Homo sapiens: one gene and its partners. The protein of the gene in region 7 purifies or fractionates together with the protein of the main gene of each other region. This does not show direct contact. Each region holds a gene or a part of one and is shown on either strand. Other genes may lie near its edges.

Region 1 (3,500 bases), on a different chromosome or scaffold from region 7:
AAAATATGAAAGGATATTCATGGAAAAACTTGTATCTTTTACATATAAGGTATTTTAAAATTTACATACAGTAAAAATCCTCGTTTCACATACAGTGAGAGTTTTGATACGTGTATCACCATCACAATGAAGATGCAGAAAAGCTCCATCACTCCATCATCCTGTGCTGCTCCATGTAATCAAACCCTCCTTACCTTCTTAGCCTCTGGTAACCACTGATCTGTTCTCCAACCAAAAGATTTGCTTTTTCTAAAATGTCACATAAATGGAATCTTACGGTCTGGCCTCTATCATCATAATGGATTTGAGAGTCACTCACTCTGCTGCACATGTCAATACTTCGTTTACTTTCATTGTTGGGCAGCATTCCATTGTATGGATATATCAGTTTGCTTATCCATTCAACAGCTGAAGGACATTTGAGTTGTTTCTGGTTTTTTGCAATTATGAATAAAGCAGGTATGAACATTTTCAGACAGGTTTCTGTGTGAACATTTCTCTTGGGCAAATATTTTGTAGTGTGAATGATGAAACATAAGGTAAATATGACCTTAATTTTTATAAAGACACTGCCAGTTGTTTTCCAAAGTGGCTATACTATCTTGCATTCCCACCACTAATGCAGAAGAGTTTTGGCCAGGCGCAATGGCTCACGCCTGTAATCCCAGCACTTTGGGAAGCCGAGGTGGGTGGATCACCTGAGGTCAGGAGTCCAGGACCATCCTGGCCAACATGGTGAAACCCCATCTCTACTAAAAATACAAAAAATTGTATTATATAAAATATATATATATTGTGGTGGTGGGTGCCTATAATCCCAGCTACTCAGGAGGCTGAGGCAGGAGAATCACTTGAACCTGGGAGGCAGAGGTTGCAGTGGGCTGAGATTGCGCCACTGCAATCCAGTCTGGACAATAGCGAAACTCTGTCTCAAAAAAAGAGAGAAAAAAAAAAAAAGAGTTTCAACTGCTCTGAATGTGGTAAAGGTTTCTCTTTTTTTAGAACATTCTTTTCAGATGCGTATAGCTTTCTGGTGAAAGTGTCTGTTGATACCTTTTGCCCATTTTTAAATGAACTTATTGGTTTTCTTATAGTTGAATTTTGAGAGGTCTTTATATATTTTGGATGTTAATTCTTTCTCAGATATCTGACTTGGAGGTACTGTCTTGGAATTCTCTTGACAGTGTCTTTTGCAGAGAAAAGTTCTGAACTGGTCTTTCTCAAAATGTATCTTTTTTCCTTTTATGGTTTAGAGTCCTATCTAAGCACTCTGCCTAACACAAGATATCCTCCTATGTTTTCCTCTGAAAGTATTATTGTATATTTTACATTTACATATGATACCCATTTGGGTCAATTTTTATACAGTGGGAATTAAAACTGGTTTTGGGTTTTTCTGCATACAGATGTCCAATTGTTCTAGTACCACTTGCTACAAATACTGTATTTTATCCACTGAATTACCTTTCACCTATATACTAACCATGTATAGACTATTTATCTGTTTGTCTATCTTTCTGGCAATATCACACTGTATTAATTCCTATAGCTTTATACTAAGTCTTGAAATCAGGTATTCTAAGTTTGTTCTCCTTTTTCAAACATATTTTGGCCATTCTAACTCTCTGGTCTCTTCATATCCATTTTAGAACTAGTTGACAGATAGCTACAAAATACCATGCTGTGATTTTGACTGGGATTGAACTGAATCTACAGATTACTGGATTACTGACTCAGTCTCTCACTATGGGCAGAAGCCTTAGAATAAAGACAACAGAAATTGTATACCATGGGATTTTGAATGAAGTCACTAATAAAGGAAAATGACTAAAAATGTTATCTCTAACGTAGGAATGTATATGGATGTGTGTTGTGCATGTACTGAAGAATGGCTAGAATGGTAAAACCATAGCTATGACTGGTAAGACGAATACATTAAACAAACCAAAGAAAGAGGATAAAGCCAGCTGAGAATGCAGAGATCATCACTTTAAGTTTTCCTTGCCTAGCAGCCTACACCTACTAAGATGAAAAGCATGGGCCTGAGGGGAAACTGTAGGCTGGATTACCTGAAGGGTGGTCCCAATAACACCCTAGACTTAATCAACTGACTACTGCTCTAGTCTCAGACTCTCAAATAAGCTGCTGTACTTGGAATCAACACCAAGACTTGTATGTGTTTAGACATTCCATTCACTTTGCAAACTGAGACATAACAATCAAGTTCTTGAAGAAGCTCTTTGCCTGAAATGAGTTTATTACAAATTATTGATAAAGTACTCATATATGTGTGTGTGTGTATATGCTTAGTAGTCACAGGCTAAAGGATGACTGAAAAGTTAACCTGCTGCACATTTCAGAGCAATTATATGAAGACACCTGCAGATGCCTACACTCTCTGAGAGTACATTTTTAGCTCAATGAATAAGTTTTACAATATTCTAGGTAATAAATGTGGTAAGCAGCTGTCTTTCAAACATACGATGAAACAACACTGTAGGATCTTTTAATGAGATGACTCACATGAGTGGGCTGTGGGTGGGGGGGAACCTTGAATGTCAAGCTAAGGAATTTGGATTCTTATTAGTAGACAATAGGGAACTAATAAGATGGTAAACACTGGACAACACTATGAAGAGTAAGAGACCAGCGTCAGGGATGCCACTTGAGAGAGCATCTCTTACAAGCCTAATGCTAAAGACTGATGCTAAAAGTCCACCATTCTACACTGTAATTTCCATAACTACAAGTCTAACTGCTCCTTAAAACAGCATTTTTGAGACTGGCAAATTACTCCCTGCTTGGTCCCATCTGAATTTCTTCATGGGTGCTTTTAGCCTCTCCAATAGTCACCAATGAAATCTGATGTATGAATGCTAACTATATTCAAGTTTGTACCTAATTTCATTTAAAATTTTACAAAAGCTATATTCTCCATTAAGAATAAAACTTTCTAAAATCTAAGTACTGGGTTTCTTCACATCTAATGTTCCTAGCTGAACATATGCGTAAGAAAAAGTTGCACAGACCAGCTTAAATTTCAGCTCTGTGGCCTTGGGTAAGCTGTTTACACTCTGAACCACCATTTCTTCATCTATATGATGGAAGTAAAAATAGCTATAAGATTTTTTTATGAGGGAAAAATAGACAATGTCAAAGACATTGTAGCATCAGTTACACACTAAGCACACAATAAATGGTAGCTATTACTGTAATTATAGCATAAACACCAAAATGACTGTAATATAAAAATCTAGGGAATATAGGAGCAGGAAATTTAAGAGAGGTCCCAATATATTCTTCTCATTGGAGCAAAGACACTATTTTAAATCACCTTACCTTTCAAAAAAGTAATAAATTATATGCCCAGTTGTGATCTCTAAACACTATTACCCTCTAAAAGGAACAAAAGCTCTTTGGATAAACAACCGATTCCAGGTCTCAGCCCATGCAAGATGAACCTGGGATATCTTGTTGCATCAGAAAGTAAGGAAAGGGTT
Region 2 (4,293 bases), on a different chromosome or scaffold from region 7:
AATTAGCCATGCGTGATGGCACACGCCTGTAGTCCCAGCTACTCAGGAGGCTGATGCAAGAGAATCGCTTGAACCTGGGAGGAGGAGGTCGCAGTGTGCCAAGATCGCACCACTGCACTCCAGACTGGACAACAGAGCTAGACTGTCTCAAAAGAAAAAAAAAAAGAAAGAAAAAGAAAAAAGAGAATTGACCCTCATGACCTTTGATCTAGAGTAAATCATCATACATGAGACGAAGAAATTGGATACCATGTTCTAAAAGTAAGCCGACTTGTTTTTCTTTGATTACCTTTCCTGGCTCATGTATCTTAGAGCTGTCTTTTATGACCCCAATTTTAAAATGCTATTGTTATCTTCGTTTAGGTAAGGGTTTCAAACCAATGATCAAATAAAAGGTCTCAACCAAGAAATATAGCACATTACTGTTAAACATTACCAGAAAACATTTTTGCTCATTGCTTTTATTAATCTTATTACAGAATATAAATTTTTCACAGGTGTGTTCTTCATCATAAAAACAGCTGCCATTTATTGAAGACTATTATATGCAGTTCCTACTCTAAGTGTTTTTCTTGGATTATTCCATTTAATCTTCACAATAACCCTCTGAGTCAGGTCTAGTTCATGCCCCATTTTCAGAGGAGGAAAAAAGGGACAAAGTGGTCAAGTAACCTGTCCAAGGGTGACATACCTAGAAAGTAGCAGTTTGGACAATACAAGCCTGTCTCTCAAAAGCCTCTTGATATAAAGACATTGATTTCTAATTTAAAATTATCTTTGAATTAAATCAAAGAGAATACATGTTGATGTTTCTGAGATAAAGGTGACAAAAAAATATAGTTTACACATTGCTAACCGCAGATCCTAATCTTGACTAAGTTACACAGGACCCACTCTTTATAAACACATCAATCTAAATTTAAAAATCAAGGCTGGGCGCGGTGGCTCACGCCTGTAATCCCAGCACTTCAGGAGGCCGAGGCGGGTGGATCACTTGAGGCCAGGAGTTTGAGACCAGAGTGACTGACATGGTGAAACCTCGTCTCTACTAAAAATATAAAAATTACTTGAGTGTAGTGGTGGATGCCTGTAATCCTGGCGACTCAGGAGGCTGAGGCAGAATTGCTCAAACCCAGGAGGCAGAGGTTGCAGTGAGCTGAGATCGCACCACTGCACTCCAGCCTGGGCGACAGAGCAAGGCTCTGTCTCAAAAAAATTAAAATTAAAACGTTAAAAAAAAAAAAAAGAACATTAAGGCCAGCATGGTGGCTCATGCCTGTAATCCTAGCACTCTGGGAGGCCAAGGCAGGAGGAGGCAGGAGGACTGCTTGAGCCCAGGAATTTGACACCAGCACGGGCAACATAGCAAGACCCTGTCTCTACAAAAATTAATTAATTAATTAATTAATAATAACAATTAGCTGGGCGTGGTGGTACAGCCCTGTGGTGTCAGCCTCATCAGGAGGCTGGGAAGGAAGGATGGCTTGGGCTGGGTAGGTCAAGGCTGCAGTGAGCTAGGATCAAGGCACTACACTTCAGCCTGGGTGACGGGGTGAGACCCTGTCTCTAAAAAAATAAATAAATAAAAATGTGAAAATCAAGAGAACAGTAAAGAAACGGGCACTGGAGAATTCCTGGAGCCTTTCTCTTAACTTTCCCACATCCATCAGACATCACCTCCAATAAACTGTTTCCTTCCTCACCTAGGCTGGAAAAAATATGGGCTCCCCTGTACCATCAAGACTTAAAACCAACAGAAACACCTATTTTGTAACACTCGGGAACTTTCTATGCCAGCATATCGAGGTTCAATAACAGCTGTTCCCTTCGGGAAGTGACAGTGGGAACCAGACAACACTCGTGTCACAGGAGGGGCGGGGAGAGCCCACGCTGACGCGACAGCCCTTTGCACTCTCCAAGTCCCTCTCCGACCCGACGTGTCACCTTAGCCCCCTGCGTCACCCCAACGCCTCCAGCCAGCTGCGCAAAGCTGTAAAAGTTCCAGGGAGAGAACAGCCTCTGGAGACAAAAAAAAAAAGGAAACCTCCATCTCCAAAGAGAACCGAGGAGAGGGAGGAGGCTGTGGTGAGCCTCCCTGGCCAAAGCGACAAAAGCTGGAAGCCAAAGCGTAGACTACTCGGCAACTTTATCAGAAGAGAAACTGAGGCAGGCACCGCAAGGCCCGAGGAGCCAAGCCGGCTCCAACAGGCGGGGTCGAGCTCCAGGGTGGCGCTGGGGGAGCCGCGCTTTCCCCGCATCCGGCGCCAGCAGCCGGGGTTTCCGAGCCGGGAGCTCCCTCCTCGCAGCGCCCCCGAGGATGCCCCCGCCCCCGCCTCCGCTCAGAGCCGCCGGTGCTCGCCCCCCGCCCCAAGAGCTCGCCGGGGGGTGTGCCCGCGCCGCCGCCCCCGGGAACGCTCCCCGGCTCGCGTGAGGACCCCCGCGCTGCGGCCTCCCGCCCGGGCCTCTCAGCTGCCCGGCCCCGCCCGCCCCGGCCCGGCCAGGCTGCCGCGGCCCCACAGTGCGACGTGTCACAGGCCGCGCCGGCCCCGCCTCCCAAGCCACGGGCACTGGCGCCCGCGGGGCCTCCCGCCGGTTCCCGCAGGGATGCCAGGCAGGCCCGCACTCGCCCGCGGCCGCTACCTTGTTAGTGGGCACCGAGCGGAGGCGCTTGAAGATGGTCAAGATGTCCTGCTTGCTGGGGTCCCCCATCGTCAGCTGTGAGCCGCGGCGCAGCTGGCCCAGCCAACCGGTAAGAGTCGACGAAAAGCGGCTACCGCCTCAGCAGGAGCGACGAGGCCGCGGGGGCGGGGCTGCGCGTAACGGTCAGGCTCCGCCCCAATCCCCGCCCACGACCGGGCCCGTCCACCGCCGGGGCGCAGGCGCCGCTCGCTTTCCCTCCCCGCCCTCGCTTCAGCCGCGCCGCTGGCCCGACCCCAGGCGCTGCACGCGCGTGCGCAGGAGGCTCGCGCGCCATTTGCGGCGCGGCTCCACGCCCTTAGCGCTGGGCGAAGCCGGGCCCGGGTGTGGCTGCCTGCCACGCGCGCTGCCATAGGATCCACCAACGTTTCGCCTGGTCGATCGCCATTTCGCCTAACGGGCTGCTTCCATGGAAAGGTCAGAGGCAGGGGAAGGGGCGCACGCGCCCTCCTTCGGCACGAGACGGACGGAGGGCCCGTGCCTTGACGCCGGACCTTAGCTGGTGGCCTTCCCTTTTTTTTTTTTTTTTTTTGAGACGGAGCCTCGCTCTGTCCCCCAGGCTGGAGTGTAATGGCGCGATTGCGGCTCCTTGCAACCTCCCTGGTTCAAGCGATTCTCCTGCCTCAGCCTCCCGAGTAGGTGGGATTACAGGCGTACATCACCACGCCCGGCTAATTTTTGTATTTTTAGTAGAGACCAGGGTTTCACCATGTTGCCCAGGCTGGTCTCGAACTCCTGACTTCAGGTGATCCACCCACTTCGGCCTTCCAAATTGCTGGGATTACAGACGTGAGCCGCCGCGCCCGACTCTTTTTAATTCTTGCCCTCAGCTCACGCCAGGCCCTGGGTGGAAAGCTTTCTTTGCCCGGAAACTGGCTTTCTGAAACCAAGGGCTTTTGTGTCACGTTCATGGAGAGATGGCAGTGCGGGTTGAGGCAGAAGTGCTCAGTCAGAACTGATGAGTCCAGATGAGAAGCTTGACTTTTAACCCCGGCCCTCGGGGCTGCACCCTACCCTCTGGGAAACAATTCCAGCCAGAAGAGTTTACACTCAGCAGAAGGTGCCTCTGTCACCACAATGGGTGTGGAGCCACTGGAAAGAGGTTGGGTGATAGTGAGGAAGGACAGCAGGTTTTGGCATCAAAGGCACTACCTTGGCCTCAATCCCAGTTCAGCCAGCTGCTTCCTAGCTCTGTGGCCTTGGTCAAGACACTTACCTTCTCTAAAGCATGGTTTATTTGCAGTCTCAGGGGCTCATGCCTGTGATCCCAGCACTTTGGGAGGCTGAGGCGGGAGGATCACTTGAGCTCAGGAGTTCAAGACCAGACTGGATAATATGGTGAAACCCCGTCTCTATAAAAAAATGCAAAAATTAGCCGGGCATGCTGGCATGGGCCTGTAGTCCTAGCTACTTGGGAGGCTGAGGTGGGAGGATCGCTTTAGTCCAGGAGGTCGAGGCTGCAGTGAGCCAAGATCGCACCACTGCACTCCAGCATGGGCGACAGACCAAGACCCTGTCTCAAAAAGTAAAATAAAATAAACCATGGTTTATTCATCTGTACAAAGAAATTAAAGAATCAGTGCTGAGTAGCACAGG
Region 3 (3,500 bases), on a different chromosome or scaffold from region 7:
TGTGTGTGTGTGTGTGTGTGTGTTTTGTTTTTGTTTTTATTTTTTTTGAGACGGATTCTCGCTCTATTGCCTAGGCTGGAGTGCAATGGCACAATCTTGGCTCACTGCAACCTCCGCTTCCTGGGTTCAAGCAATTCTCCTGCCTCAGCCTCCTGAGTAGCTGAGATTACAGGAGGGCTCCACCACACCCGGCTAATTTTTTATATTTTGGTAGAGATGGGGTTTCACCATGTTGGCCAGGCTGGTCTCGAACTCCTGACCTCAAGTAATCCTCCCACCTCGGCCTCCCAAAGTGTTGGGATTACAAGCGTGAGACACCACGCCTGACCTTGGTTTGTTTGTTTGTTTTTTTTTTTGAGACAGAGTTTCGCTCTTGTTGCCCAGGCTGGAGTGCAATTGTGCAATCTCGGCTCACTGCAACCTCCACCTCCCGGGTTCAAGCGATTCTCCTGCCTCAGCCTCCCGAGTAGCTGGGATTACAGGCATGTGCCATCATGCCTGGCTAATTTTTTGTTATTTTTAGTTAGAGATGGGGTTTCACCGTGTTAGCCAGGATGGTCTTGATCTCCTGACCTCAGGTGATCCACCCACCTTGGCCTCCAAAAGTGCTGGGATTACAGGCGTGAGCCACCACGCCCGGCCACATTTTTTTTTTTTTTATTTTTAGAGGCAGAGTCTCACTCTGTCACCCTGGCTGGAGTGCAGTGGCGTGATCATGGCTCACTACAGCCTCTACCTCCCAGAGTCAAGCAAACCTCCTACCTCGGCCTCCTAGCAGCTGGGACTACAGGTGGCACCACGATATCGTGCTAATTTTTTTTTTTTTTTTTTTGGACAAAGTCTTCCTCTGTCACCCAGGCTGGAGTACAGTGGCATGATCTCAGCTCACTGCAGCCTCTGCCTCCCGAGTTCAAGAGATTCTTGTGCCTCAGCCTCCCAACTAGCTGGGATCACAGGCATGAGCTGCCATGCCTGGCCTGGCTAATTTTTTTTTTTTTTTTTGAGGCAGAATCTCGCTCTGTTGCCCAAGCTGGAGTGCAGTGGCGCGATCTCAGCTCACTGCAAGCTCTGCCTCCCGGGTTCACGCCATTCTCCTGCCTCAGCCTCCCGAGTAGCTGGGACTACAGGCGCCCGTCACCATGCCCGGCTAATTTTTTGTATTTTAGTAGAGACGGGGTTTCACCATGTTAGCCAGGATGGTCTCGATCTCCTGACCTTGTGATCTGCCCACCTCGACCTCCTAAACCTGGCTAATTTTTAAATGTTTTGTAGAGATAGGGTCTCGCTATGTTGCCCAGGTTGAATTCCTGGCTTCAAGTGATCCTCCCACCTCGGCCTCCCAAAGTGTTGGGATTACAGGCATGAGCCACCGCGCTCGGTCATATATATTTTTTTAATGTCATAAATTTTGAAACACTGCTTACTAGTAAGACCATAACAGTTCTTATTTCCACAAGAAGCAAGAGAAAGATCTTTTCCCAGCATCCTGCCCTGCAGTGGGTTGCAGTTCTTTTTAACTTTTGCCAATCTGTCAGGTGTAAAGTGATATCCCCTTGATACCCTTAGCAACACATGTTTCTAAGTCCTAAATGTATTAATCACGCCATACTCCTTTCCAGGGCCTAACTCAAATTTCTGACCCCTTTCTGAGACCCTAAAACACACCTCCTAAACCCAACCTCAGCCCTGACCAGTGACCTTTGTACCCCAACCTTCATCTCATCTGTCTAAACTTTAGGCTCACTCCTGTAATCACAACACTTTGGGAGGCCGAGGCGGGAGGATCACCTGAGGCCTGGACAACATAGTGAGACCCTGTCTCTACAAACAAAATAAGAAAATTAGCAGGGCGTGGTGGCCTGTGGCTCTAGTCCCAACTACTTGGGAGGCTGAGGTGGGAGGATCACTTGTGCCCAGGTGTTGGAGGCTGCAGTGAGCTATGATCCCACCACTGCACTCCAGAAAGGGCGACAGAGGGAGACTCTGTGGCTTAAAAAGAAAAAGAAACTTTAGTAATCTGCTTTCCTTTGAGTCCTGAAAACCAGGAACTCAGTACCTTTCTATTTCTTTCCAGATCCTCTCTATCCTCCCACACTCCCTCCAACTGACCCCTCCGACCGGTCCCTCTTAGAGGCTCACCCCTCACTTCCGTCTCCTTCCAATGCATCTCCTCTCATTTACCTCCAAATAGGGCAGCCCCTCCCTCCCCATAGCAGGGCCCTCCCAGGCAGGCTCCTAGTGGCCGGCGCCGGTGGATGGGGGAGGGGCCAGGTCGCCTGAGGCGGGGGCTAAGTTTAGGCACGCTGGGGGGAGGGGGCCTCCCCGCAGCTGTTCTGGCCCGTCTGGCCCCTGAGTGACAGCGCTGCCTGGGGCCGAGGCTGGGGGAGGGGGTCCTCCCTGCTCCTGGGCCCCAAAGTGCTGGCTCGAAGGAGAAGGGACCCCATGCTCCCTCTGGGTCCTCCCTATACTGCCCCTCGGCCCCCTAGCCCCAGCCTGCAGCGCTGCGGAAGCAGATCAGTAATAAAAATGCTCCGGATGTGCAGGAGATAAGGGCGAGTTTGGACCCCGTTCCGCCGACCTCAGCCCCCGTCCAGCCCGTTCCGCAAGCCCACCTTTACTCCCCATATCGGCTCCGAGTGAGAGGCTGGGGACACCGCTGCTTCTCGGGGATTTTGCCCACTTCAGTAGAACCCGGAGGACAGGAGTAGGGGGGGTGGGGCCCCTTTGGACCCAGCCAATGGCTGTCCACAGAGGTGGGGACAATTCCAAAATTGGAACCGTCTTGTAAACAGCCAAAAGCAATGATGTCTTTAACCATTCCATAGCTGTTCCTGGAGGCGGAGCATATTTTAAAGTAAGGCTGGGTCATTTTACAACTGGCCAATAGATGTGGTCAGGAAAAAGAGGGTTTTTGTTTGTTTTTTCAAATAGAGATCGAGTCTCCCTATGTTGCCCAGGCTGGTCTTGCACTCTTGGCTTCAAAGGATCCTCCCGCCTCGGCCTCCCAAAGTGTTTAGGATTACAGGCATGAGCCACTGCGCCCGGCCAAAAAGAAGAGTTTTTAAAAGGCACAGAGTTTACTTATAAATATTCTACGGCCACATCTAAATAAGGAGAGAACTGTATTTTTTCAGGGATTTGGCCTGTCCAAAATCAGCCACTAGGAGGAGCACTCCAGAAGAGGGAGGATTATTTTATTTTATTTTTATTTTTTGAGACGGAGTCTCGCTCTGTCGCCCAGGCTGGAGTGCAGTGGCGCGATCTTGGCTCACTGCAACCTCTGCCTTCCAGGTTCAAGCGATTCTCCTGCCTCAGCCTCCCGAGTACAGACGGGGTTTCACCATGTTGGCCAGGCTGATCTCGAACTCCTCACCTCAAGTGATCCGCCCGCCTCGGCCTCCCAAAGGGCTGGGATTACAGGCATGAGCCACCGCGCCCGGCCGGGGAAATTTTTTTAAAAAGCGGAGTTTATCACGTCTAGCCAGATGTGATATCACGTC
Region 4 (3,455 bases), on a different chromosome or scaffold from region 7:
ACCACGTGGCAAATCACAGCATAGAGGAAGTTGGGGAGTTTAGAGAGGGTGCCAGTACCCTGGAGCCACACAGGTGCAGAGCACTGCAGGTAAGCTGCAGAATGGCCTATAACAGGCTAGAGTGTCCCCTTTGGAGATCTGAAATGGGTCTGCTGAGTAAATCTGGGGATGCTCCAAACACAAATGCATCACCTTCTCCCATTTTGTTCTCCTGAATCAGTCATAATTCCCCAGGGAAACTTCTGTCTTTGGCACCCGAGGATACAGGGCTCTATTCCCATGATAAGAAGAAAATACGTTGCCATCGCCAGCCAGCACTTAGGACTCTCCAAATGAGGCAAGCATGGCTGAAAATGGATCTCTCACTCTCAGCAAAAAAGCTCCTAACAGAAGACAATGTGTTACATCTCTGACTCCTAAGAGAAAGAAATAGACACCTGGCTCACAGTCACCTCTAACATCGGGTAAAATAAAGAGAGAAAGAAAGGCAGTCACTTGAATTCACTCATCGTAACTTCATTTTATTACAACATCAAGGAAAATAGTTGCAGGAGGAATGAAAATGGAGAGAAACATAGAGATTAAGCTACTCACAATTCCATTGTCTATACCTTCCTACAAGGGTATAAATATCACAGGTTTCTGTACATGCATTGGAGGTTTGCTATGCGTGTGTGGATTGTGTGTGGATGACTTCTCTCTAGGGTGTTGTTCTTTTAATTTCTTGACAGATGATGGTTGAATTTGGTGTTTTCAGGTGGACTAGGAGGGGGTTCTCCCACTAGGACTGAGACCCAGCCTTCTTCTTCTGGAATTTTCTGAACTGAGACTGAATGGCCACCGCTGCACGTTCTGTCTCTGGTGCATCCATGTCAATGTCAAATTCTTCTTGAACTTTCTTCTGTCCATCTGTAGCAAGACAAACACAAACAGAAGGCAATCACTGAGCTGAAAATAGGAAAGCAGACAGCCCCACTAGATAAGTGAAGCCAGGAAGTCCACCTTGGGGCACACACAGGGGCTTAACTTACACCCCAGGACAAGAGCTCATCTGCAAAGTAAAATCCAGTGGAGTGTTTTGACAGAGCTCAGAATCTACCACCTGAGCAGGACAATGAAACTCAAGGACACAGTCTCAACACTTCATGTATTTTCTGCACATGATTTTCTGTTCTCAGTGACCATCTTGATATATGGTTTTAATACTGGCTGTGCTGTTACTTTCTCCTGCTATCTCACAGAGGTACCATTTAATATTGCTAAGATATTGGTCCAATGATAGCTGATATTCACAATTACTGAGTCAGCAGAGTCATATACTGAGTTTCCGTGTATAATTCTGTGTGTCATTCTCAGGAAAGATTTGCTTATTGCAATCAGGGCTTCCATTTTTATCATCGTCAAGATGGGATGACACCATTTGACCTTCACAGTTCGACTGAACTTTCACAAAGCTTACATTCTTGTTCCTATGAGGTAGACTTGGCAAATGGCTTGCTGAGGTGGAGGGATTTCACCAATTCACACGGTGACAGGACACAAAGTGGGGGGTGGTGAGGAACGAAGGCTTGGGCCTCTGTGCTGTATACCTTACCACAGCACAGGGCCAGTGCAGCCAAGACGGAAAAACAAATAAATCAATAAAATTCTTCAGTCGTGGAAGGTAAATGTCTTTCAAAAGCCTCTAGTCTGATGAGACCCGGCGTGTTCAGGGTGGTATGGCCGTAGAGTGTATAGTGTATGCTGCTCAGGTGATGGGTGTATCAAAATCTTACAAATCACCACTGAAGAACTTACTCATGTAACCAAACACCACCTGTTCCCCAAAAACCTACAGAAATAAAAAACTAAAATAAAATAATAAATGCCTCTAGTCTGATGAAGGCTAAACATCAGATTCATCAAAGGCATCGTTTTTCTTTTTCTTTCTTTTTTTAAATACAGGCATGAGGGTCTCACCCCAGACTCAGGGCTTCCTCCTTGCACAGCCGCAGTGGGAAGGGTGCTCCTAAGAGCAAGATGGATGTTGAGAAATCCGTGTCCCTGTGGGGAGGCCAGACATCTACACTTCTTTTAAAAAGACTCTCAGGTGTGGCCAGAATTGAGATCCAAGGACAAAGGAGGCCTTGGAGTTAGCTCAAGCCAGAACTGGGGACAGAACTGACCTCTCCTGGGACCTGGGCCAAGAGCCTCGCTGCCACCCTGGGCTTGCACCTAGAGCAGAGGAGGCCAGCCCTGTGAGGAGCACAGCCAACTTGGAGATGGGAGAACTGGAGGCATTCTGAGGCAGAGGAAAAGCCCCAGCCAGTGAGCAGGGAGTGGGGCTCTATTCCTGAGTGTCACCAGGCAGCCTGAGTTCATCATCCACTACCTTGTTTAGGGACTTTGCATAATAATGCTCAGGCACCAGCTCTATCAGAGAGGGTGGAGGAAGCTGGGGTTCCTTGAGGACTTGAGGTAAGGCCTGCCTGTTCTATCCTGCTTGCTCTAGATAGATGATGATAGATAGATAGATAGATAGATGATAGATAGATAGATAGATAGATAGATAGACAGATAGATAGATAGATGATAGATAGATAGATAGATAGATAGATAGATAGATAGATAGATCAGAGAGACAGACAGACAAACATAAGTAGATGATAGACAAATACAGATAGACAGGTAATAGATAGATGAGAATCAGCACTTATTTCAGATGCATCTGCAGAGCTGTAAGCAGCCTCCTCTCAATTTTCCTAGATCCTAATCAGTTTCCACCTGGGACCCTTCAATCATCCTCTCACCTAGGAGGAGGGAATGTCAGCTCTGGCTTTGGAAGCCTTGTAGGACTGATGGAGCCATGACCCAAATCAGAGAACTGTTGTCTTCTATTTCAAACTTGCTGCCAATGCTCATAAAAGCAGAGATGTTGAGTGCACCAATGTTCAGGAATATTTCAGAGGCAGGGGATGGGGGTGCTTCCTTTTTAACCCAGGACAGCCCAAATGATAGACAAGTGGAACTGTTTCTCACACTCCAGGTAGCTATTCACATTGTCTTCTACATTGCCAGGGCCCTTTCTTTGGAGAAAAATAAGGGGTAGGATCACTGGGAGAAGTAAAAGTTTCCTGTGGCTCAAGTAGATGTTTTAAAAGTGGTTAATTAATGTTATCACATGAGCCTGGGACTGGAGGTCAAGTGTCTAGCAAACCCAGAATGCAAATGGCTCCAGTGTTTGTGCTCATGGCAATAAACCCTTTTGTACCAATAACATCCTTGGTTAGGTAGCATCTACAGCACTGGGAGTTGTCATTTTTCATAAGATGGTTTATAGTCCCAAATCCTTCTACTCCCAGAGGAATCCTTGCATCAACTGTACAGTGAGTGCAAAGGGGAAAAATTCACTCCTGATTCCAAGTAGGAGGGGAAGTTTCCCTTTTAAATGTAAAATGTTGCTGGAATCTGAAGTT
Region 5 (3,500 bases), on a different chromosome or scaffold from region 7:
TTTGCCGCAGGGGCAGGGTCCTCATGGGGAACCTCTGCAAGGGCAGTGCGGAAAGGAAATGTGGGATCGGAGCCCCCACAAAGAGTCCCTACTGGGGCACTGCCTAGTAGAGCTGTGAGAAGAGAGCCACTGTCTTCCAGAATTCAGAATGGCAGATCCACTGACAGTTTGCACCGTGCACCTAGAAAAGCCAGCAACTCCACACCAGCCCATGAAAGCAGCCAGAAAAGTGGCTATACCCTGCAAAGCCACAGGAGCGGAGCTGCCTAAGACCATGGGAACCCTGGCTGGGTGTGGTGGCTGACACCTGTAATCCCAGCACTTTGGGAGGCTGAGTTAGGTGGATCACTTGAGGTCAGGAGTTCAAGACCAGCCTGGCTAATATGGTGACATCCCATCTCTACTAAAAAATACAAAATTAGCCAGGCGTGGTGGCGCATGCCTGTAATCCCAGCTACTTGGGAGGCTGAGGCAGGGGAACTGCTTGAACCCAGGAGGCAGAGGTTGCAGTGAGCCAAGATCGCACCATTGCACTCCAGCCTGGGCAACAAGAGCGAAATTCCATCTCGGGGGAAAAAAAAAAAAGAAAGACCATGGGAACCCACCTCTTGCATCAGCGTGACCTGGATGTGAGCCACGGAGTCAAAGGAGTTCATTTTGAAGCTTTAAGATTTGACTGCCCTGCTGGATTTCAGACTTGGATGGGGCCTGTAGCCCCTTTGTTTCTGCCAATTTTTCTCATTTGGAATGGCTGTATTTACCCAATGCCTGCACCTCCATTGTATCTAGGAAGTAACTAACTTGATTTTGATTTTACAGGTTCATAGGCAGAAAGGACTTGCCTTGTCTCAGATGAAATTTTTGACTGTGGACTTTTGAGTTAATGCTAAAATGAGTTAAGACTTTGGGCAACTGTTGGGAAGGCATGATTGGTTTTGAAATGTGAGAACATGAGTTGGGAGAAGCAAGGGGCAGAAAGATATGGTTTGGCTGTGTCCCCACCCGAATCTCATCTTGAATTCCCATGTGTTGTGGGAGGGACCCAGTGGGAGGTAATTGAATCAATGGGGACAGGTCTTTCCTGTGCTGTTCTCGTGATAGTGAATAAGTCTCACAAGATCTGATGGTTTTGAAAAAGGGGGGTTTCCCTGAACAAGTTCTCTTCTCTTGTCTGCTGCCATGTGAGATGTGCCTTTCACCTTCCGCCATGATTGTGAGGCCTCCCAGCCACATGGAACTGTAAGTCCAATAAACCTCTTCTTTGGTAAATTGGCTAGTCTCGGGTATATCTTTATCAGCAGCGTGAGAACAGACTAACACAGAAATCTACATCCAGGAAAATACAGCCAAGCACTTTGTAGGAAGCCTAGATTCATTTCTGAAATAAGGATAAAAAAGAAAACACTTGCAGCTAACAACTAGGTTTAAAAGCTGAACAGGTGGGGTATATTACCTGTAGTCCTCAGCAATCGAAGCCAGCAGTTTCCTACAAGTCCTATTATCAAAACGGCACACACAGCGCATTGTTTCTTGAAGTTGAGCCATTAGATTCTTATCTTGTAAATTAATTGCTTCAGCTATTTGAACTTTTAAGAAGCATACAATTTCATTGTCTAAATAAAAGATACAAGAATTCTGTTATTCTTGAGAATTTCCATGTGCTTAAATAAGCTAATTCAGCATTTGGGACGTCAATTCTGCTTTGTCACGTATCATTAGAACTAAGCTGTATTGCCACTCCCAATTAGAAAATACTTTAATAAATCATCAGTAATCAAAGTGCCCTTAAGTGATACTAATGTAAACATATTAAGTTGAACCATATGGAATTGCTGTACAGCTTCAACAGCTGAATACTGGCAATTTCATATGGTGCAACCCATAAACATAGGAAAAATTAAACGATCCTGCAGCAATTTACCTTCTGGGTCTGTGTGGTCTGGTAAACCATTCCTTGTTGAATGGGTCAGCACTGGGAAGGCAACAGAGTCCGCAGAGCAAAGAGCAAGCCTCAGTTTCTTTTTTGCATCTCTGAAAAATGAGTAGAAAATACATTAATTTCTTTATCCAGATATGGTCACATTTTACAAATATTTACTATATAAATTAATGTTACCTTAGGACTCAAATGTTTCAAACATTTTAAAGAAGATGATTCTTAACTGACACTCCACTTAAAAGAACAGGCTTTCTAATTACCCAAGGAGCCAGGTGTGCTCGGGGCAAGGACCATTCTTTAAAGCACCAGAATCAAACAACAAATCCTTTCTGACCTTTTTTCATACACTGAGTTCCATGACGGGTGCTATAAGAATCGGAAAAGCATATTATGGCAGAGTGGGAGGGACCACGGAAGTCAGAAGCTCCCAACACCCAGATTTGGAATGCCTTCTGGCACATCTCTTTAGAAACGCTGATGACGCCACAAAATAAGCTCACTACCTGACAAGAAACCCTTTCTTCTTTTTTTTTTTTTCCTTTTTCTTTTTTATAGAGATGGGATTTTGCTATGTTGCCCAAGCTGGTCTCCAACTCCTGGGCTCCAGCGATCCACCTGTCTTGGCCTCCTAAAGTGCTGGGATTACAGGCGTGAGCCACCACGCCCAGCGAGTTTTTTAAATCCTTGAATTAACACCTTTGATACATAACATCTACAACTGAAACAAAGTCTTCTTAGTAAACAGCATTTCATTTTTCTCTCCCTGCTTTATACATTTATTGACTCAAAACATCACTTGACTTGACGTGACTGCAATGGTGCTGAAAAGTCCAAACCCTAAAGTCCCAAATCCTATAAAAGAAATACCTGTAAGAGAAAGCTGAATCCTGCGGGTGGGCTGCTTGGCTTGCAGAGTCTGGGAGATCATCAGCCGAGATGTTCTGCAGTGCTTCGTCACGGGGAGAATCATGTGCACTTTCACCATCACCCATAACCTCTAAACAAAACCCACCCCCAAGAAACGGATACCCAGGTTCATTTGGAATATTATGGCACTAGTAGGTATTCAGAGCAACTCAAGAATAAATTACCATTGACTAATAATAAGAGTTCTCTGGAAAAAAAAGAAAGAAAAAACAAACTTCAAATACTTAACTGAATTATCAATAGCAACAATTATGTATCAAGAGACTAGTTGCTGAGAAGAGAGTGGTTTTACTTCTTATCCCAATACTAATGCAAAACAATGAACTAATGCAAAATAATGAAAGTTCACATTAACTTAATAAAGTTAACATCTTAGAATCACTGAACCAGAGAACTAAAAGAGGCTTCAAAAATCATTTTATACCCTCATTTTATAGACATGGACTCCTGCCCAGTCAGAAAATGGCTTGCTCTAAATTTCTTGGTTGGCCAATGGCCAAGGTTGACTATGGGTTAAGGTCTCCTGATTCTCTCTACTGGAGGTCTTCCTGCTACACCCAAGAGTGAGTCAAGGGACCAAATCACACATGCAACAAAGTCAGATCTGTGGTTTCCAAAGTTGGTTTTATGTCTT
Region 6 (3,318 bases), on a different chromosome or scaffold from region 7:
TTTGTTGAGTAATGAGTGTGGATAAAGTTGTAGATAGTGTCGGTCACTCATTGGAATAAGATTAACTTAAATTTGTCACATTATTTCTCTTCTCTCTAAAGGGGACAACAGAAATACTTTCTTATTGTTCCTATGTCCTGTGTCGTATGTCCAGTGAAGGAGACTCCCCAAGTTGGCTTGCTCGCTAACAAAAAGGAATGATGTTGGTAAACATGGAATCAGTGAGATTGTTACTCCTCAGGTTCCTGTATGGACTGGTGATTGTTATCTATATATAATCTCCATTTTCTTTTAATTCTACTAAAACAGTGGTTAAGATATAAATTCCAATTAGGTAATAAACTTTGCCAAAGAAAAAACAGAGAGAACTCTTTATATGAAGTAAATTTCTCAGACTAGAGTAATTGGGACACCTCATTCTCACTATACTTGGTTTGCTCACAATAGTTATTTCGATTTAATTTTTGGGAAGTGAATAACTGGTTCCCCTGCAACCTACATTTATTTCTTCTTCTTTTTTATTTAAGCATGGAAAAGGATATATACAAGCAATACATTCCAATTTCAGAAACACTTAAATTCTAGTATTTGTAACAATGACATTGGAAAATGTTTTAAAATAATTCATTTTAGGGCTAAGAAAACTGAAATTATTTCACAAAGGTAGAATTTCATTCCACTAGAATGCATATTATATGAACATTGAATTTTAACAAGTTTTTAGTTTGAAAAAGTATTTTTCAAGAAGGAATTTGTTTGGACATAGAGAAATTTTCTTTATTACAGGTGAAAACCTATCCATAGGGGTGAAAAATTTTCTGTCTCAGATTTTTCCTGGAGAGCATAAAGACAAATAATTGTACTATATGATCTGTAAGTGCTACAACATGAATTAGATTATACTTCTCTACTTCTGTAAATAAATATGTCAGAAAGATAATAGAAATAAAGCCTTGAAGTAGAAGGGAAAGAAAAGAAGAACAGATGAGTAAGGGGATATTATTTAAAGGAAGCAGAAGAAAACATTGAGTCAGCTTGTCTTGAAGTGCCACTCTATATTTTATTTCCCAGTTAACCATGTCTACATTTTCTAAGATCAGTATATTGTTTTCTTTGTTATCATCATTAGGCTCCATAATATAATTTTACATCATATATTATTAAACATTTATGACTACAAGAAATTCTTGAAGCTACTTCTACATGTGATCATATCAAAGTATAAATTTTGCTAACAAGACACGCTGTGTACCACCTTACAGATTTATAGTTTATGCGGCAGAGTTAGAAATCTGTGACAAGTCCTAACACTTGTCACATCTCAATGTGGTTTTCCTTAAAAAAAGCAGCCAATATCCATGTAAACAGTACATTGTGAGATGTAAAATTTGATTGATAGCTCCTAAATATCATCCCAAATATACACAAATTAAAAGATTATTCTAAATGCTTTTTCATCTTACATATCAAGAAACTCATAAAGATAACATTATAAAAGGCAACATTTGTTAAAAGGCCACTGTGGTTAACTTTATGTCACTGGAGTCAATACTGCAGCCACTGTCAATTTCCTGGATGGTTGAGGTTAGAAGTTGATTCTTTCAAGGCAAACATCAAGTAATTCGATTTGTCTAGATGACTGAACAGAGAGAATTCTTAGCCACTCCTTTCAAATGGATTGTTCAGGTCAAGTTACTTTAATGCCAGGTCAGTCAGGGAATCAGAGACCTTGGTGTTGACCTGTGCAGAAAGACTCGCTTGTGTAACGTTGAGATAGATGTCATACTGCTGGTCCAGGCCAAGGTAGCAGTCACTCATGAAATATAATGTGTAGATATACCTAAAATATAAAAATAGAAGAAAAATGTAAAACCACTTTTGTAATCACAATCATATTTAATTCTTTCAGAACTTTGGTAGTAGGAGGCTGGGTGCGGTGGCTCACGCCTGTAATCCCAGCACTTTGGGAGGCCGAGGCGGGCGGATCACGAGGTCAGGAGATGGAGACCACGGTGAAACCCCGTCTCTACTAAAAATACAAAAAATTAGCCGGGCGCAGTGGCGGGCGCCTGTAGTCCCAGCTACTCGGGAGGCTGAGGCAGGAGAATGGCGTGAACCCGGGAGGCGGAGCTTGCAGTGAGCAGAGATCGCGCCACTGCACTCCAGCCTGGGCGACAGAGCGAGACTCCGCCTCAAAAAAAAAAAAAAAGAGAACTTTGGTAGTAGGATTCTTCTTACCTTCCAGGTATTTCAGGGGTATAAAAAGAAAGGGAAGCAACATGATGATTTCGAATATATCCTACTCTTTTCAAAGCAATAAGTTCTCTCTTATCCACTTCTCCTAATATCAAAAACCATCCTTCGTCTTTTGATTTGGGAAATCGAGGAGTAACTGCACAGCTCTCTGGCTTTCCCTGTAAACCAGAAAAAAAGATACAACATTAAAAATATCTAGACTTCCTATACCACTTGGTTGTGGTTAAGGCTACGTTGTCTTACTTGAAGGCCATACATCTACATAGTTCAGCATATCTATCTGAGATGTTTTAAATTTTCTTCCATTCTGGTTTGGTGTCTTTGATATGCAATTATTTAACTTACTTCAAGATTCTCAGAGCATATTATAGACACTAGTTCGTAGTTGTAACTATCAGAATATATGGCCAGTTAGAATAAAAAACTCTGGATCTTGACATCAAATTAGCAAATTCTCATGCTATTCCTACAATTAACTTTAATACCACATTGGTAGATGAACAAATTGAGACATAACCATGTTAATCAAATCTTCCAAAACCTTATTCACCAAAAACGAATGCTTAAGAAAACAAACAAACAAACAAAAACACAAAGCCAATCAAGACTAGACTCTGGACCCCAAGATGATGAGTACTATATCAAACACATACTTTCCCCCTCATCCAAGAATAAAACTCACATAAAAAAGCACATATTCTAATATGGTAACATTAAAAAGTCCCTTCTCTGAGGAATGGGCAATTTTAAGTCAAGCAATTTGTAAAATATATTAATCACCACAATCCAAAATTAGATATAAATATAATGATCGCACTTGAGGTCTTTATTTTAGATCAATTTTTATAAAATGCAAGATTATTCTAATGATTCTTTAAGACAATGACTTTATGGCATAAAATATAGTAATAATGATACATTCTCAGACTTCACTCAGTATTCTAGAGGGAGATGTTTCACTTACAGTATTTCAAAAGGGAGTCAGAGAGTAATATATTTTTACAGCATTCAGAAACAAAAATTAAGAGATTTTCTGGCATGATTAAATCTAAGCTTTAAGTA
Region 7 (3,500 bases):
CCCTTGCGAGTGGCCGGACACACCACAGCCCACCATCGTCCGCAGGAAGACAAACCAGATGTACGAAGGAGCAAACGAGGTCAGCAAGGAGAAATAGGCTCCCCACAGGAACGAGATGAGCAGAATCTGAAGCAACAGCAGAACACATGAATGGGACCTGCCTCAATGCGGGGAGGGAAGAAGCCCTAACTTCTGAAGGCGATTTTCGGTTTCCATCCTGATAGTTGCTTCTCTGAGGAGCTAACCTGTAGCAAGCCCACTGGTCTTTCACAATCATCCAACAATACAATCCATGCCATTCTACTGTCTGGAAGCCCAGACCTACCAAGTTCAGACCATTCTTTAAAACTACCATGCTGTGCCCACCCTCATGGGTGGCAGGTCCCTGAACTTGGACATCAAAAGGCAAAAACGTGTCCTCCCTACTCACAGGGCTGCTGGGGACGTAATGAGGCAGTATGTTGGGAGGAGTACAAGGAGAACATTTAAGGTATTTGCTTTTTCTTTAATTATAAGGATAAATTCATAGTAAACAATACAGAAGAAAAAAGAAAATTAAGAAATTGAAATCACCATTGATTGTCCAACCCAGAGAAGATAACTCTTAACACTGTTTTATCTTCTCTGTTTATGAGAGAAAACGAAGTGTTAATGGCTGGCTATAAATGTTCCAGTGGAAAGATGTACTTTCATACATGTAATATAATACATAAGACCTTGCTCTACTGTTGCAGTTTAAGTTGTTTCAGATCTTCTCATTATTAAAATAAGCTGCGATGATATCTGTACATAAGTCGTTATGCCCTCTCTGATATCTTTAGCAAGCTAGATTTCTGGAAGACAAATGTTCAGGTTAGCAGAATATTTTCAAGGTTCATGTTTCATACTGCCAGGCTGATGGTCAGAAAAATTATACCAATAGGGTTTAATAATATTATATAATAATAATGATATATTAACACCAACAGGGTGTTATATATAGTAAGGGTGTCTATATACTTGCAAGTCATGAAAATGTCCATTTCAACGGTGCAGGACTCTTTAAGGAAAAATTTCCTTACATATTTGATAAGGAAAAATTATATCTTGCTATGTATTTTGTTTTTGATAACTCCTGTACTTTAATGTTTTTTCAAAGTTTCTTGATAATTTGTATTTCTTTTATAAAATGCCTTTTTGTGCTTTTTTGAGATACTCGTGTTTTCAAATTTACAAGAATCTATGCTATTTATTTCATGTACTTTAAAACATACAGCCAATTCTACTAATGTTTTCCTTTGAGATTCCTCCATTTGTGTTTATGCTCAGAGAGGATTTCACCAGAAATCAAGCAAATAGAAAAGACAGACCTGGGTTTGTAATCAGAAGACATAATTTATGTCTTGATGTCTAATCTTAGTAGGCACGTGACTTTGAGCACGTAGCTAGTTTCAAAGCTATACCAACATGAGCAAAATGTGTAGCTGCTTATGTTTATACCTGCAAATGTCCACACTCTAATATGTTTTAACTCCGTACATCCATCAACTTGAGAGAGAAAAGCGGCTCAGAACAGTCTGAGGAATGTGAGGTATGCAGAATTTATCAGGTCCAGAGACACAGGAGCATGCGACTCCGGTCACATTCCCGCACCCATGCCCAGGGTAATTGTATTTCATTTTGTTTTTCTTACCTTCCCTGTAGTTTCCAGACTAGCTGATAAATTACCTAAAAGGTTACCGCAAGTTGCACAATGTGACGCTCATCCATTATCTCCATGTTTTTAGATTTTGTGACACCAAGAAAGATGTAGAATCAGCTGATAGCATACCTTATTTTAACGAACCAATGTAAATTATTAGTAAATAACTTAGGAAGTGCCCCCAAATTCTTTTCTCTCCTCCTTTAAAAAACCCACTTGTAACTGCTGCTAATCGGAGCATATATTCAGGGCAACTGGACTGTATGACTTCCGAGCTGCAATCCTCAATCTTGGTCCAAATAAACTCCCTACTTATATTAATTTCGTCTCTGTTTCTTCCTTTAGGTCAATATTTCTGGCATAGCTGGCAAGGTTCAGAGCAACACCACCCCTTACCCCCACAATTACCAATAGGCTCCTCTTGAACTTGCTGCATGAACCCACTGCGTTCCCCTAACTCCAGAGGTTTCACTGGGGGCAAAAGGGTGAGTCTTTCTGAATCTGGCCCTCCTTTCCTTTAGGTTGAGGTCTACAGTTTGGGTGGCTTCTTTATAAACTCTCTCATTTAAGAGCATGGGCTTCCATTTCTGTCCCTGGACGGGACATTCAGGCAAATGGCTCTGCAGAGAACTTCTGCTTTCTCTGCCTCTGCCTCATAGCAGCAGGTTTGGCTTAATGGTCTTGGCCATCCAGCACTAGTCATTTTACTTTTTCTTGTCCTAAAATTCCATCACAGGCTTTAAAACTTGCATCTGTTTCCTACTGATTGTAATTTGGACTTCTCTTTTCATTTGTGGCCAGTTCCTGCTAGTTTCAAACAGATAGGTGCCTGAGGGTGAGTTTTCTTGCCCCAAAATTAAGGGAGACTTGCTCCCTCCCAACCTACTTGGGTGCTCTGGGGGGTTAGAGACTTTATGGACACTCACTCATGACACATAGTCCTGAAAGAACAGCTTCTTCTGAGCTTGCTGTTGCAGCAGTGGACTAGTCATTTAAATGAAAACCAGAGGAAAAAACCTCCCAATAGGGCTGCTCTGAAGGGCTAAGGGGCCTTTTCCATTCCCCTTATTAACTCATTAGAAGCGAAGATATGGATAAATGGAGAACAGATGTGTGCCCCCACTGATATCAGACCTCTGTTCTCAACACCACCACAGTAAACTGGACGTGGTGGGGGCATCTAACCAACCCATGACTGCTTCTAAGTCCCAACCTTTAAAAGTTCAAATAGAGCCACTTAGCGGCCTTCCTTCCTTTAATCCTTCTGGGTAGAGATTTCTTAGAACTCTATAATACCCGCATCTCCTTTTACTCCACACCTGGACTGCAGAGGAACAGCTGCAGGCACAGGTACCCTGAGAAAAATGTCCAGAAGATAAGCCTGGAATGTTCCATCAGGGAGGGAAATGTCTGCATTTTCTATCTTGGGTATTGGGAGGGAGATGCCTACTAAAGAGAAACAGTGATAAGGTTGCCCCCAAAAGAATACACAAAAGACAATTCCAAATGCTACTGTGAGGCCCCACCTACCTTCCAGCGGCCATATCTGTCAGCCAGGAGGCCAAAGAGGATACTGAAAACCATGTAGCCAAAAAACACCATCTGCAAGTGGGAGCGAGATAAAACGGTTCTCTAAGCAGGTTTTACATGTTACTTTACCCCGTTAGCCATTTTCACTAGAAGTAGGCTGGAAATACGGGAGGGATGGAAGTTAATTTAAAGAACAGGGTTTCACGTTGGTCTTGCTTGCCCCTGAGGCCCTTCATGTTCAGGATTTCAGCTCCCTGTTGGTGGGAGCCTAACAAGGCAGATCCTGCCC

What was found.
Region 1: the proteins of SVOPL (region 7) and EIF5B purify together in Homo sapiens (affinity purification with mass spectrometry; one large-scale study listed by BioGRID and IntAct). This does not show direct contact.
Region 2: the proteins of SVOPL (region 7) and ARFGAP3 purify together in Homo sapiens (affinity purification with mass spectrometry; one large-scale study listed by BioGRID and IntAct). This does not show direct contact.
Region 3: the proteins of SVOPL (region 7) and RTN2 purify together in Homo sapiens (affinity purification with mass spectrometry; one large-scale study listed by BioGRID and IntAct). This does not show direct contact.
Region 4: the proteins of SVOPL (region 7) and PCP4 purify together in Homo sapiens (affinity purification with mass spectrometry; one large-scale study listed by BioGRID and IntAct). This does not show direct contact.
Region 5: the proteins of SVOPL (region 7) and GAPVD1 purify together in Homo sapiens (affinity purification with mass spectrometry; one large-scale study listed by BioGRID and IntAct). This does not show direct contact.
Region 6: the proteins of SVOPL (region 7) and ASCC3 purify together in Homo sapiens (affinity purification with mass spectrometry; one large-scale study listed by BioGRID and IntAct). This does not show direct contact.

The regions. Positions count from the first base shown.
Region 1 is NC_000002.12:99,364,889-99,368,388, reverse strand, and holds part of EIF5B (eukaryotic translation initiation factor 5B), read right to left. Parts: intron 1-3,500. UniProt on the Homo sapiens protein: Plays a role in translation initiation.
Region 2 is NC_000022.11:42,854,474-42,858,766, forward strand, and holds the start of ARFGAP3 (ADP-ribosylation factor GTPase-activating protein 3), read right to left. Parts: upstream 2,801-4,293; 5' UTR 2,710-2,800; coding exon 2,641-2,709; intron 1-2,640.
Region 3 is NC_000019.10:45,490,548-45,494,047, forward strand, and holds part of RTN2 (reticulon-2), read right to left. Parts: intron 2,832-3,500; coding exon 2,613-2,831; intron 1-2,612. UniProt on the Homo sapiens protein: Inhibits amyloid precursor protein processing, probably by blocking BACE1 activity. Enhances trafficking of the glutamate transporter SLC1A1/EAAC1 from the endoplasmic reticulum to the cell surface.
Region 4 is NC_000021.9:39,926,438-39,929,892, reverse strand, and holds the end of PCP4 (calmodulin regulator protein PCP4), read right to left. Parts: intron 910-3,455; coding exon 782-909; 3' UTR 501-781; downstream 1-500. UniProt on the Homo sapiens protein: Functions as a modulator of calcium-binding by calmodulin. Thereby, regulates calmodulin activity and the different processes it controls.
Region 5 is NC_000009.12:125,348,826-125,352,325, reverse strand, and holds part of GAPVD1 (GTPase-activating protein and VPS9 domain-containing protein 1), read right to left. Parts: intron 2,937-3,500; coding exon 2,807-2,936; intron 2,032-2,806; coding exon 1,922-2,031; intron 1,614-1,921; coding exon 1,454-1,613; intron 1-1,453. UniProt on the Homo sapiens protein: Acts both as a GTPase-activating protein (GAP) and a guanine nucleotide exchange factor (GEF), and participates in various processes such as endocytosis, insulin receptor internalization or LC2A4/GLUT4 trafficking.
Region 6 is NC_000006.12:100,507,694-100,511,011, forward strand, and holds the end of ASCC3 (activating signal cointegrator 1 complex subunit 3), read right to left. Parts: intron 2,415-3,318; coding exon 2,239-2,414; intron 1,841-2,238; coding exon 1,693-1,840; 3' UTR 501-1,692; downstream 1-500. UniProt on the Homo sapiens protein: ATPase involved both in DNA repair and rescue of stalled ribosomes. 3'-5' DNA helicase involved in repair of alkylated DNA: promotes DNA unwinding to generate single-stranded substrate needed for ALKBH3, enabling ALKBH3 to process alkylated N3-methylcytosine (3mC) within double-stranded regions.
Region 7 is NC_000007.14:138,659,863-138,663,362, forward strand, and holds part of SVOPL (putative transporter SVOPL), read right to left. Parts: intron 3,284-3,500; coding exon 3,212-3,283; intron 127-3,211; coding exon 2-126; intron 1-1.